Regions from separate parts of the Homo sapiens genome. Here region 1 is linked to region 2. The links come from fine-mapping of genetic effects on gene expression. A gene starts in region 2. The other region holds a variant in brackets. All regions are shown on one strand. Distances are between the middles of the regions. Region 1 overlaps GPR173 (G protein-coupled receptor 173). Region 2 holds the start of GPR173 (G protein-coupled receptor 173).

What was found. PIP is the estimated chance that this variant, and not a neighbour inherited with it, causes the effect.
Region 1: its variant is fine-mapped to the expression of GPR173 in spleen (GTEx, PIP 0.97).

The regions. Positions count from the first base shown.
Region 1 is chrX:53,073,952-53,079,327 of GRCh38, reverse strand. It overlaps GPR173 (G protein-coupled receptor 173), which reads right to left. Exons shown (of 2, transcript NM_018969.6): 2 at 1-2,803. The coding sequence starts at 2,706. The coding sequence ends at 1,585. Among named protein-coding and RNA genes, the nearest start is that of TSPYL2, 5.7 kb to the left of the region's middle. RefSeq lists an enhancer at 1,679-1,738. The variant C/T (reference allele first, on the strand shown) is at 2,620.
Region 2 is chrX:53,046,336-53,051,711 of GRCh38, reverse strand. GPR173 (G protein-coupled receptor 173) reads right to left here and starts at 2,923. Exons shown (of 2, transcript NM_018969.6): 1 at 2,228-2,923.

The sequences.
Region 1 (5,376 bases), 28 kb before region 2:
GCTCATTAATGTCTCTCCTGCCTAGAGTGCCCTCCCCATTCTGTATGGGTCAGGCTTCCCCAGTTCTGGGGCTCTCTTGGGCTAGGGAGGGAGTTTAGGACAGGGACTTCTATAAAGAAGGGAAAGGGGGATGGATAAATACAGATTCCGGCCCCACAGGAAGTGAGAGGGGGACAGAGAGCCTGGGTAAGACCAGGGCAAGGAGTGCCAGCTTGGCTCACCAATCCACAGAACAGGCCTCAAAGTAAGCCCAGAGTGGACTCCACCCCTGGGAGGAGGCTTGGATCTCCCTCCTGGAGAATCTGACTGCAGTGTGCTCCACTTTGGGTGTAGGTAAGGGTGGGGGAAGGATGGGGAAGGAGGGTTGTTGGGAAAGAAGGATGCTTGGGGCTCAGGGCCCAGTCAGCCAAGGGCTACTAAGGAGGGGCTTGAGGCCCCTGAGGCTTGAGGGGGACAAAAAGAGGTCAGATAGGAATGGACTCAAGTCCACAGTGCCTTGGAGTTTGTACCGCTATCGGTTACCAAGGCCCCAAACAAATTTTCATCTTCAGAAGAGTAGGGTGAACCCGAGAGACAATTCTGGGGTTGAAATCAGCTCTGACCCAAGTCTCTGTGGTCCAGCTACTCTGGGGAGTTCAGCTCCCTCCTTACACTTTCCTGGTGGGCTGCTCCTGCCTGTATGGCACCCACATCAGTCCTAGTGGGGCTGGAGTGGATTTCCATCCTCAGGAAGAAGAGTTGGGGGCTGGGGATCCTGAAGGCAGCGTGAGAGAATGTGACCAAGTGTGGGTCTCTTCAGTTCGAGGAGTTCAGCTCACATCTTACTCTTCACCTAACCTGGGCCCATCCTTGGGGCCCTTCTCCCTACTCCCTTGACTTCTCCAACAGATGCACAAGAACCATTTGGGAGGTCTGGACATGGTGGGGAGGGAGAAGAGACTGGGCTTGGGGCAAGGGTTGGCCTAAAACAACATTGCACATGACATAGTAATTAAACATCCCTGCTCCCTGGGAACCCAGCACCCCCTTTGGTCCCTCTTGTCAGCAGCCTTGGACCACTTTCTCCCTAAACATCCAGGCCTTGCTAAAGGACTTGGAAGGGGAGGGTGCATGGGAGCAGAGGGGGCAAAAGAGCTCTGGAAGTCTATTTTACAGGACAAATTCCCCCTTCTGGACAGTGTCAGAAGGAGAGACATTAAAGTAAGAAAGCCTGTCTCCTCAGCTGTTAGTAGAAAAACCTGCATTCTCAGTGTTCTTTTCTTTTTCTGAATTGTCACTTCTGAGAGAGAGAGAGAGAGAGAGAGAGAGACAGAGAGAGAGAGAGAGAGAATGAGATTGTAGAAGTGGAGAAGGAGGCAGCGGAGACAGGCCCCACAAAACTAAATATGCCTCTTTCCCAGTCCCTCGCCCAGTCCTCCATCCTTGGGAGGTGTTGGCAAAGGTGCCTAGATTACAGGTGGTTCGAGGGGCTGGGGCTGGAGCTCAGAAAGGAGGACTCCTGTATGGGCCCCTACCCCTCCCTTGCTGTTGGCCCCATCACGGTGGCCATGACCTTCTCTCTGCCTGTCTGCCTACCAGCCTGCTTCACATGACACAGTAGGGTTCTCTGGGAGCCGGGGCACCTCCTGTGCCCCAGCAGGGGGCGTGAGTCCTCAGGCACTTCTTGAGGTCCTTGTTGAGCAGGAAGCAGACAATTGGGTTGACGGCAGCCTGGGCGAAGCTCATCCAAACAGCAGTGGCCAGGTAGCGGTGGGGCACAGCACAGGCTTTCACAAACACTCGCCAGTAGCAGGCCACGATGTAGGGTGACCAGAGGAGCAGAAAGAGCAGTGTGATCGCGTAGAACATGCGGCCCAGCTGCTTTTCACCCTTGACCTCGTCCATGCCCAGTAGCCGCCGGCTGGCTGCATGCCCATTCTGCCGGATACCCAGCAGGGTTGGTGGCATGGGCCCACGGCCAAAGCCGGCGATCCAGTTGGCAGCAGCCTGGCCGGTGGCCCCGGGACCATGGAATGTCCAGTTCTGGCTGATGGCTGGCACCATCTGCACTGGCTTCATCTTGCGGTGACGATACTCGAAGAGGAGCAGCTTGCCGTAGACAGCATGGGTAGCTGCCATGAGCACAGCCAACATAAGCATGAAGCCCAGCGTGTCATTGGCCTTGAAGTAGCGATGCTCAAAGATGCACTGGTCCTCCTCCCGAATAAACTTGTAGGTGCCCACGTCAAAGACAGGTGGGAAGGCCATGGCCACAGACAGGGTCCAGGCCATGCAGATGACAGCCGCGCATGTCCAGAGTGTCATGCGCTTGGCGTAGAAGCGGTGGTGGGCGATGGCCATGTAGCGGGTGACGCTGATGCAGAACAGCATGAAGGCCGCATGGAAGCAAAAGAGCACGGCCATAAAGGCCACAATCTTGCAGCTGAGTGCACTGAAGGTCCATGAAGAGCCGTGGCGCACAGAAGCCAGCACAAAGGGGAAGCAGACGGCAGAGCGTATGCCATCGGCCAGGCACAGGTCCAGCAGGAAGTAGTAAGGAGCCTTGTGCAGGGCACGCTCCTTGAGCACCAGCAGGGACAAGATGGCGTTACCCGCCAGGCTCACGCACATAATCAGTCC[C/T]AGCAGTACCAGCTTCACATAAGCTGATGCGGACGGTGGGGACAGAGCGCCGCTCACCTCCTCAGGCTCTCCGGTAGTGTTGGCCATACTGAGGGTCAGGGGCTACTGCCAACCCTAGGGGGTCAGCCAGTCCGGTACTCGATGGGCCCGGGGGGGCTCCATGAGTTGTCCTGCTACATTGCACCTGCAAATGGGAATGAGCGGGGGAGACACAGACACAGAGAGACAGAGAGATGAGGGCAAGAGAGAGACAGAGAGATGAGGGCAAGAGAGAGACAGGCAGAAAAACACAACAGGCGTGCAGAGACAAAGTGGGAAAGAGAGAGAGAGAGAGATAGAACAAAGAGATAGAAAAGTGGCCACCGATATAAATGGATTGAGATTGACACAGAAATGGAGGGGATGAGAAAGAGCGAGGAGAGAGAAAGAGGGGAGAGAGAGAGAGACAGACAGGAGACCATGAGAAACAGATGGAAAGGAAAGATGAGGAAGAAACAGAAAGGGTAGGGTTAGTGTGTCTACGAGCCCTCCCCAATTATGCCCTGGCTGGTGCCAGGCCCTGCCCCTGGGCCACTCCTGCTCCTACCCGCTCCTTGTCAGGTGAGGATGCTGCATTTCTTTGGATGTCTTTGGTTACCTGTTTCCTCCACTGGTGGATCTGTGGGGCAGGGATGTTGGTGCAGCTCTTCTCCCCTTTTGCAAAGCTCTAAGGTTGTGTTCAGACTTTTTTTTACTGCCACCCACAGTAAAAAAATACATTTTACATCACAACCCGCTACACATACATGCACGCACACACACAGCTCAACCAAAAGTTTCACAAAACAGTACTGAACCTGTATGCAATGTACCCCATTCATTTTTATTCTCTTTCATGTGTTCTTAAAATGCTGGTACCACTCACTTAATAGATTTCTTTATTCATGATGAGGAATGTGTTTAGTGTGCTTGAGGAACAGCAGGAAGACGAGTGAGGCAGGAACGGTGAGAGCAAGGGAGACAGTGGTGGAAGGTGAAGTCGCAGAGATGCCTTGGGGCCAGATTGTGTAGGGTTGTGGGCCACGATGAGGACTTTGGTTTTTATTTTAGGTGAGGAGGCAAGTATGTGTGAATATAAACATGTAGGGATGCTTGTGCATATTCATTCATACACTGAAAAAATATTTATCAAGCATCTGTGTGCCAGGCACTGTTCTAGGTATTGGGGATACAGCTGTGAACTACACAGATAAAGATCCCGGCCCTTGTGGAACCGACATTCTAGATAACAAAGAAGAGACACGGGTGAAGTATAGTATGTCAGATGATGACAAGTTCCTAAGAATAAACATAAAGGAGGGAAGGAAGATAGGAAGTGCTAGGGGTGGGGAAGATGCTGCAGTTTTAGATGAGGTGGACAGGGGAGGCTTCACGGAGGAAGTGTCATCTGAGCACAGACCTAAGGGAGGTGAGAGAGTGAGTCATGCGGATATCTCGGGGAAGAGAAGTCCAGGCAGGGGGAACGGCCAGAGCAAAGGCCCTGAGGTGGGACTCTACATGGCATATTTGAGGAAGAGCAAGGAAGCCACTGTGGGTGGAACACAGTGAGTCAGGGGAATGTGGTGGCAGGTGAGGTCAGAAAGGTGGTGAGGTCAGATCAGGGAGGCCGTGGCGAGAACTTTTTCCTCTGAATGAGATGGGAGTCACGGGAGGATTCTGAGCAGAGGCCAGATGTGGTATGATCTAGGATGGAACAGAATCCCGCTTGCCGTTGTGAAGAGCAGGGGTCATGTGGGGTGTATTAAAAGTAGGGAGACTACTCAGAGGCCCCTGCAGCAATCCAGGTGACAGATAATGCCCCCTCCATGCCACTCTCCCTATTTTGCCTCCTAGAATTTCTCTCTTCTAACACACTATATATTTATATATATATAATTTTATAATATAAAAATTTATATATAAATTATATATATTTATATATAATTATATTTATATATAAATACAAATAAATAAATATAAATATATATTTATATATTTATTTATAATATTTATAAATAAATATATATAAATCTATATTTATAGTTATTTATAAATAAATATATATAAATCTATATTTATAGTTATTTATAAATAAATATATATAAATCTATATTTATAGTTATTTATAAATAAATATATATAAATCTATATTTATAGTTATTTATAAATAAATATATATAAATCTATATTTATAGTTATTTATAAATAAATATATATAAATCTATATTTATAGTTATTTATAAATAAATATATATAAATCTATATAGTTATTTATATATAAATATAAATATATATTTATATATATTTATATATTTATTTATAAATAAATATAAATATATATAAATATATATAAATATACATTTATATATAAATATATATGAATGTATATTTATATATATTTATATGTAAATGTATATTTATATATGAATAAATATAAATGTATATTTATATATATTTCTATATGAATAAATATAAATGTATATTTATATATATTTCTATATGAATAAATATACATGTATATTTATATATATTTCTATATGAATAAATATACATGTATATTTATATATATTTATATAAATGTATATTTATATATTTATATATAAATAAATATACATGTATATTTATATATTTATAAATATATATTTATATTTATATATTTATATATAAATATATATTTATGTATAATATATATTTATGTATATTTATATATAAATATAAATATATATTTATATATAAATA
Region 2 (5,376 bases):
ACACACATATACAACTAGACATTCAACAGGCCTGATGGCTCAGAGAAAACACACCCACACTCAGGCTCAAAATCAAACATGTCCATTTGATCACCCAGACAGACATGCAAAGTCATGCCCACCCCACAGTACACACACAAGCCTACCCAGATACCCACACACTCACACACATGCCATCACACGGCCTGCTTACACACACAGGTTCATACACAGCCACACTGCCCATGAACAGACATGCACACACAGACTACACACTCAGCCACACATTTTCAGTAGCATATATACAACCACGCTCGGGCCCAGAGGCCTCCAGACCACAGACCAGGTCCTCTCCCACACCAAATGCTTCTTCAGAAAAGTCTACTTTATGCCTCAAAGCCCCCCTCCCTGCCCCCACAGAGATGGTCTTCTGGGCCTCAGTCTTTCCCCATTCCTCCTCTTCCCTTGGCCACCGACCCCACACTCTGTGTCCCATCACATCTCCATGCCCTGAAATCAGCCAGCAGACCCCGTTCTTCCCCCACCCCAGGCTCTAGGTGAGCAGCTCCCTGGGACGCGTCCCTCACAGGTCTGGCTGCTGCATGGGCCACACCCCAGCTCTACCCGAAGCCCCGTGATCTCAGGAGCTTCAGCCTCATCTCCAGGCCCTGCCAACCACTGACCACAGGCCAAACTCTTGCCAAGTCTCCCCTCAACAGGGAGACACATACATCACCAGGGCCAGAAAGGCTGCAGGCTGCAAGCCAGGCCTCTGCTGGCTCATGGGGGCTCAAGGTTCTGTGTGTGTGTGTGCGCACAAACAGGGACAAGTGCAGGGAAAGAAGACTGGAGTGGGGTGGGGGAGGGAGGCTCTGCCCATAACCACTTATCATTCTCTACAAATGAGAAGTATTAACACAGGGCTTCTCCTGCCTCCCTTCCACTACCCTCCATTTGCCCACTTGCTGCCCTCCCCAGATCTCTGCTGAGACCCTGGAGAAGAAGGACCTGTCCCTCCTCCAAGTAATCGATAACACTATTAATCATGAATAATCAGCAACAATATTGACTGTGAGCTTTGCTGACATTGCTTCAGTGCCACCTCGATGCACATCTCTTACTTACATGCACCAACTCATTCAATCCCTACACACACCCATCAGGGAAGGGTTACCAGTCTCTTTGACAGATGGGAAAACTGAGGTTCGGTAAGTGGCATGCTTCCACTAAAGTTGCAGAGCTAGTAGTTGGGGGAAGTGTCCCTGGGAGGATCCATGTTCTCCATGTACCAGGCTTTCCTGCCCTTCCAGATATATGGACCTCCGGCTACTGGGCACAAGGCCACAAGATCCGGGGGGTCTCAGACACAACATGGACATCTGAAACAGAGACAGAGAGCCTTGTGGTGGAGGCTGGGTCCCACACTGTAGGGACAACCATGTTGTTCCTGGCCCCTGCAGGTTGTCATGGGATTGGTCTTTGCCCCCACAGAACCATCAGGCAGCCTAGGGCCTGGAAGTGCTCCCCACCACCACTTCACTGTCCTTTAGCCCTACAGTGACTTCCTCCCCCTAGCTGGGAATCGGCAACATCTTCAGTGGTGAGTGAGCAAAACTCTGCTACCTGTAGGGAGAGATGGGGAGGTGGGGAGGGTGGAAGGAAGGAAGGAAGGAAAGGAGGAAAGAAGGAGTGGGGGATGGTCTGGGCTGGGAGCAGCTTCTCTGTCATGTCTACCCACCTGCTTGCTACCCAGGTGCACACACACACACACACACACACACACACACACACACACACCCGGCCAGCAGGCCAGGGATCCTGGAGGAGAGTGGAGGAGGAGGGAGAGGGAGAGGAGCAGCCGCAAGAGGCTGAGCCTGCCCAGGGTGCAGGCATTGTGAAGGGAACACGGCCGCCGGGCTCCCAGGCATCCCTTCCACAGCCAGCACACAAGGAAAGATTAACACAGCCTCATGCCCAAACGCAACCATGATGATAAAAACAGACCCTGTGAGGGGAAACAGGTGGTGGTTCCCTTTCTCATGGGACATTTGGGATTGGGGAAGATGGGGGGAAGATGAGGAGTCCCCAGGCTTGGGTACCAAGGAGCCCCTTGATGGAGCAGAAAGAGACTAACAGAGTCAGACAGAGACAGAGAGCATGGCAGTGATGGAGACTCTGAAGTATGTGTGGGGAGACAGAACAGAAGTCCCAGCCCCCCATCCTTGGTGGAGGGATGCTGACTGCTTACCTTGGCTCTCTCAGCAGGGATGTCTTGGAATCCACGATGGGGCTCAAGCTGTCTCACCCAGGTAAATCACAGCCCGGGCCACATTGTGGGACCCTCAGTGATCTGGCGGCCAGTGACACTCCTGCTTCTGTTGCCGTGGATACAGCCGGGCTGGTCTAAATCGCAGGCATCAGGGAAAGCAGGCACCGGAGGGGTGCACTGGGTAGGGCTGGGGGTGTTGGGGAACACCAGGTGGGCAGCACACAGCCTTGGGGTGTCCAACTAGCTGGCAGGTGGGGGTCCCGGCAGGTGCTTCCTCCACTATACACTCCCACTCCCATCTTCATGCCACTGCCAAGCTGGGAGGGGGGCCAGTGCTGGCCCCTGCTACCCGTCTGCCTGCCTGGCTGCCGGTCCCCCTACCCCCCCCACCCCCCACCCCCCCCCTCCGTCTGCCTGCTGGCCGCCGCCTTTTGTCCTCAGAAGACACGGTCCCCGCGGGGCCTCTGCCAAGCCTCCAGCAGATGCTCAGGGTCCGGGGCTCCTCCCTGGGAGCACACGGGCCATGGCCTGGGAGAGCCCCAGGTTGGGGGGGCTCTCATCCAGGCTCACCCCGCTCCCCGGGCCTGGCGGGGATGGGGAAGAGGTGCAGGTCCACAGCCAGAGGCAGCAGCAGAGGTGGTGTTGGGGAGGGGATGGACGCCAGAAAGAGGGGGTGGGGTGGAGAGAGAGGCTGGCCTGATAGCCGTGTCCCGGGTTTTAGATCCGGGTTGAGGAGGGTGGCTCAGAGCATCCGAGGGGGGTCCTCATGCAAAACGAGGGCACCAAGGGCCTGCCAGAGGGACCCTCCTGGCCTGGGAACCACCCCGGTGCACACAAATCCAGGTCCCACGATGCTGGGGACACCCAGCCTGGATAGAGCATCAGTGGGGAGTCCGGGGCCCTAAGCTGGACCCCATCAGGCCTGTCCGTCCCCCCTCTCCTCGATTTGCACGGTCCCTGCCTCAGGGGCGGGCGGAGGAGGAGGGAGGCAGGGAGGGAGAGGGAGGGAAGGAGGAAGGCTGAGCAGGCAGGGAGACTCCCAGCTGCCAGCCTGGTCCTCCCTGGGGCGGGGCGGGGAGCGGGGGGGGGGGCGGGGGGTGCTGGCGAGGCCAGGGAGCAGCCGGCTGGCTGACTGGGTGGGGACGCTGGCGTGGCGGCTGTGCTGCCAGGACAATAGCTGGCTGGGGAAGTCAGGCTCGGGCCTTTCTGAGATGCTCGAGAGAGGCATGAGTGGAGGTGGGGAGAGATGGCCAAGAGGCTGCTGAGAGAGCAACTCACATGGGCTACAAGTGCAGAGGAGGCAGGGCATAGAGGACGCTAGGATCTGGGTCGGGACAAAGGTCCGGCGAAAGTTTCTCAAAAGCTTTGGGCTGGGAGGCATGCTTAGGGCCCGGAGAGGTGGGATTCATAAACTGATTTAGAATGGGGTTCTATGGGCATTTTCCCTGCAAGGCCTGGAGGTTGGCTGGGGGGTTGGGGTGGGAAAGGAGCGCTGCCCAACTCTGAACAGCCCCTCTCAGGATATCTCCTGTGCCATCCCCACTTTCTCGGGGCCAGCAGACAGGCAGAACCCATACTTAAAGCCATGTCCCAGGACAACAGAATAGGAGAGGTGAGGAGAACGCTTGGTAGGCAGAGATATGAAGACAAGGAAAAAAATATTTGTTTCAAATATGATTAAATTGGGACCAAATGATGCTTCAGTGGTTCCCCTAAGTTACAGCATTCAAGAATTCAAATTATCTTGATATAAGAAATTGTGTTTTATTTCCTTTCTTCCTTCATCCATTGGTTCCTTCATTTATGACAAATGGTTTTATGTTAGGCCCAGTGCTGGGCACTAACAGTACCGGGTGACTCAGACCTATGCTCTCTGCCCTTAGGAAATGCAGGCTCTGCTACCAGACTGTGGACCTGGAACCCACTTGCATCTGAATCCCCTGGAGAACTTGTAAAGTGTAGATACCCAAGCCTACCTCCCAGAAATACTAATCTAGGAGGTTTTCAGATGGGGCTTCAAAACCTGCCTTTTGACAAGGCCCTCCGGTGGTCATTTTTATGCCCACATGCTTTGGGGAGGGAGAAAAATCCATGGAAAATTAGAAAATGTTTTGGAGGCCGGGTGTAGTGGATCATACCTGTAATCCCAGCACTTTCGGAGGCCAAGGCAGGAGGATTGCTTGAGTTCAGGAGTTTGAGACCACCCGGGACAACATATTGAGACCCCGTCTTTATAAAAAATTTAAACCTTATCTGGACATGGTGGTGTGCGCCTGTAGTCCCAGTTACTTGGGAGGCTGAGGTGGGAGGATCACTTGAGCCCAGGATGCTGCAGTGAGCTGTGTTCTCACCACTGCACTCCAGCCTGGGCAACAGAGCAAGACTCTGTCTCGAAAAACAAACAAAAAAAGGCAAAACGGGCTGGGCACGGGCTCACGCCTGTAATGCCAGAACTTTGTGAGGCCAAGGCAGGCAGATTGCTTGAGCTCAGGAGTTTGAGAAAAGCCTGGCCAACATGACAAAACCCTGTCTCTACTAAAAATACAAAAATTGGCAGAACGTGGTGGTGCGCACCTGTGGTCCCAGCTACTCCAGAGACTGAGGTAGGAGGATTGCTTAAGCCCAGGAGGTCGAGGCTGCAGTGAGCCGAGATCGTACCACTCCACTCCAGCCTGGGCGACAGAGCAAGACTCTGTCTCAAAAAAAAAAAAATGGCAAAACAATAAGTCTTCTAAAATATGATGTAAGAGAATATCTTTATAACTTTGGGGTAAGGAAGGAATTAAACAAGACAAGAAGTAATTACCATAAAGGAAAGGAGTGATACATTGAACAGCATTAAAATTTAAAACTTCTGGTTATCAAAAGATACCATTAAAATAGTGAAAAGATAAGTCATAGAATTAGATAAAATATTTGCAAAGTATATATCCAGTAAAAGGCTCATATCCAGAATATACAAATAACTTTTACCAACCAATAAGAAAAAGACAGATAACCCAAAAGAATAACAGACAAGATACTTGAACAGGGACCTTGCAAAAGAGGATAGCCAACTGGCCAAAAACTTAGGAAAATGTGCTAAACCTCATTGGTAGTCAAGAAAATACAAAATGAAACCATGCTCA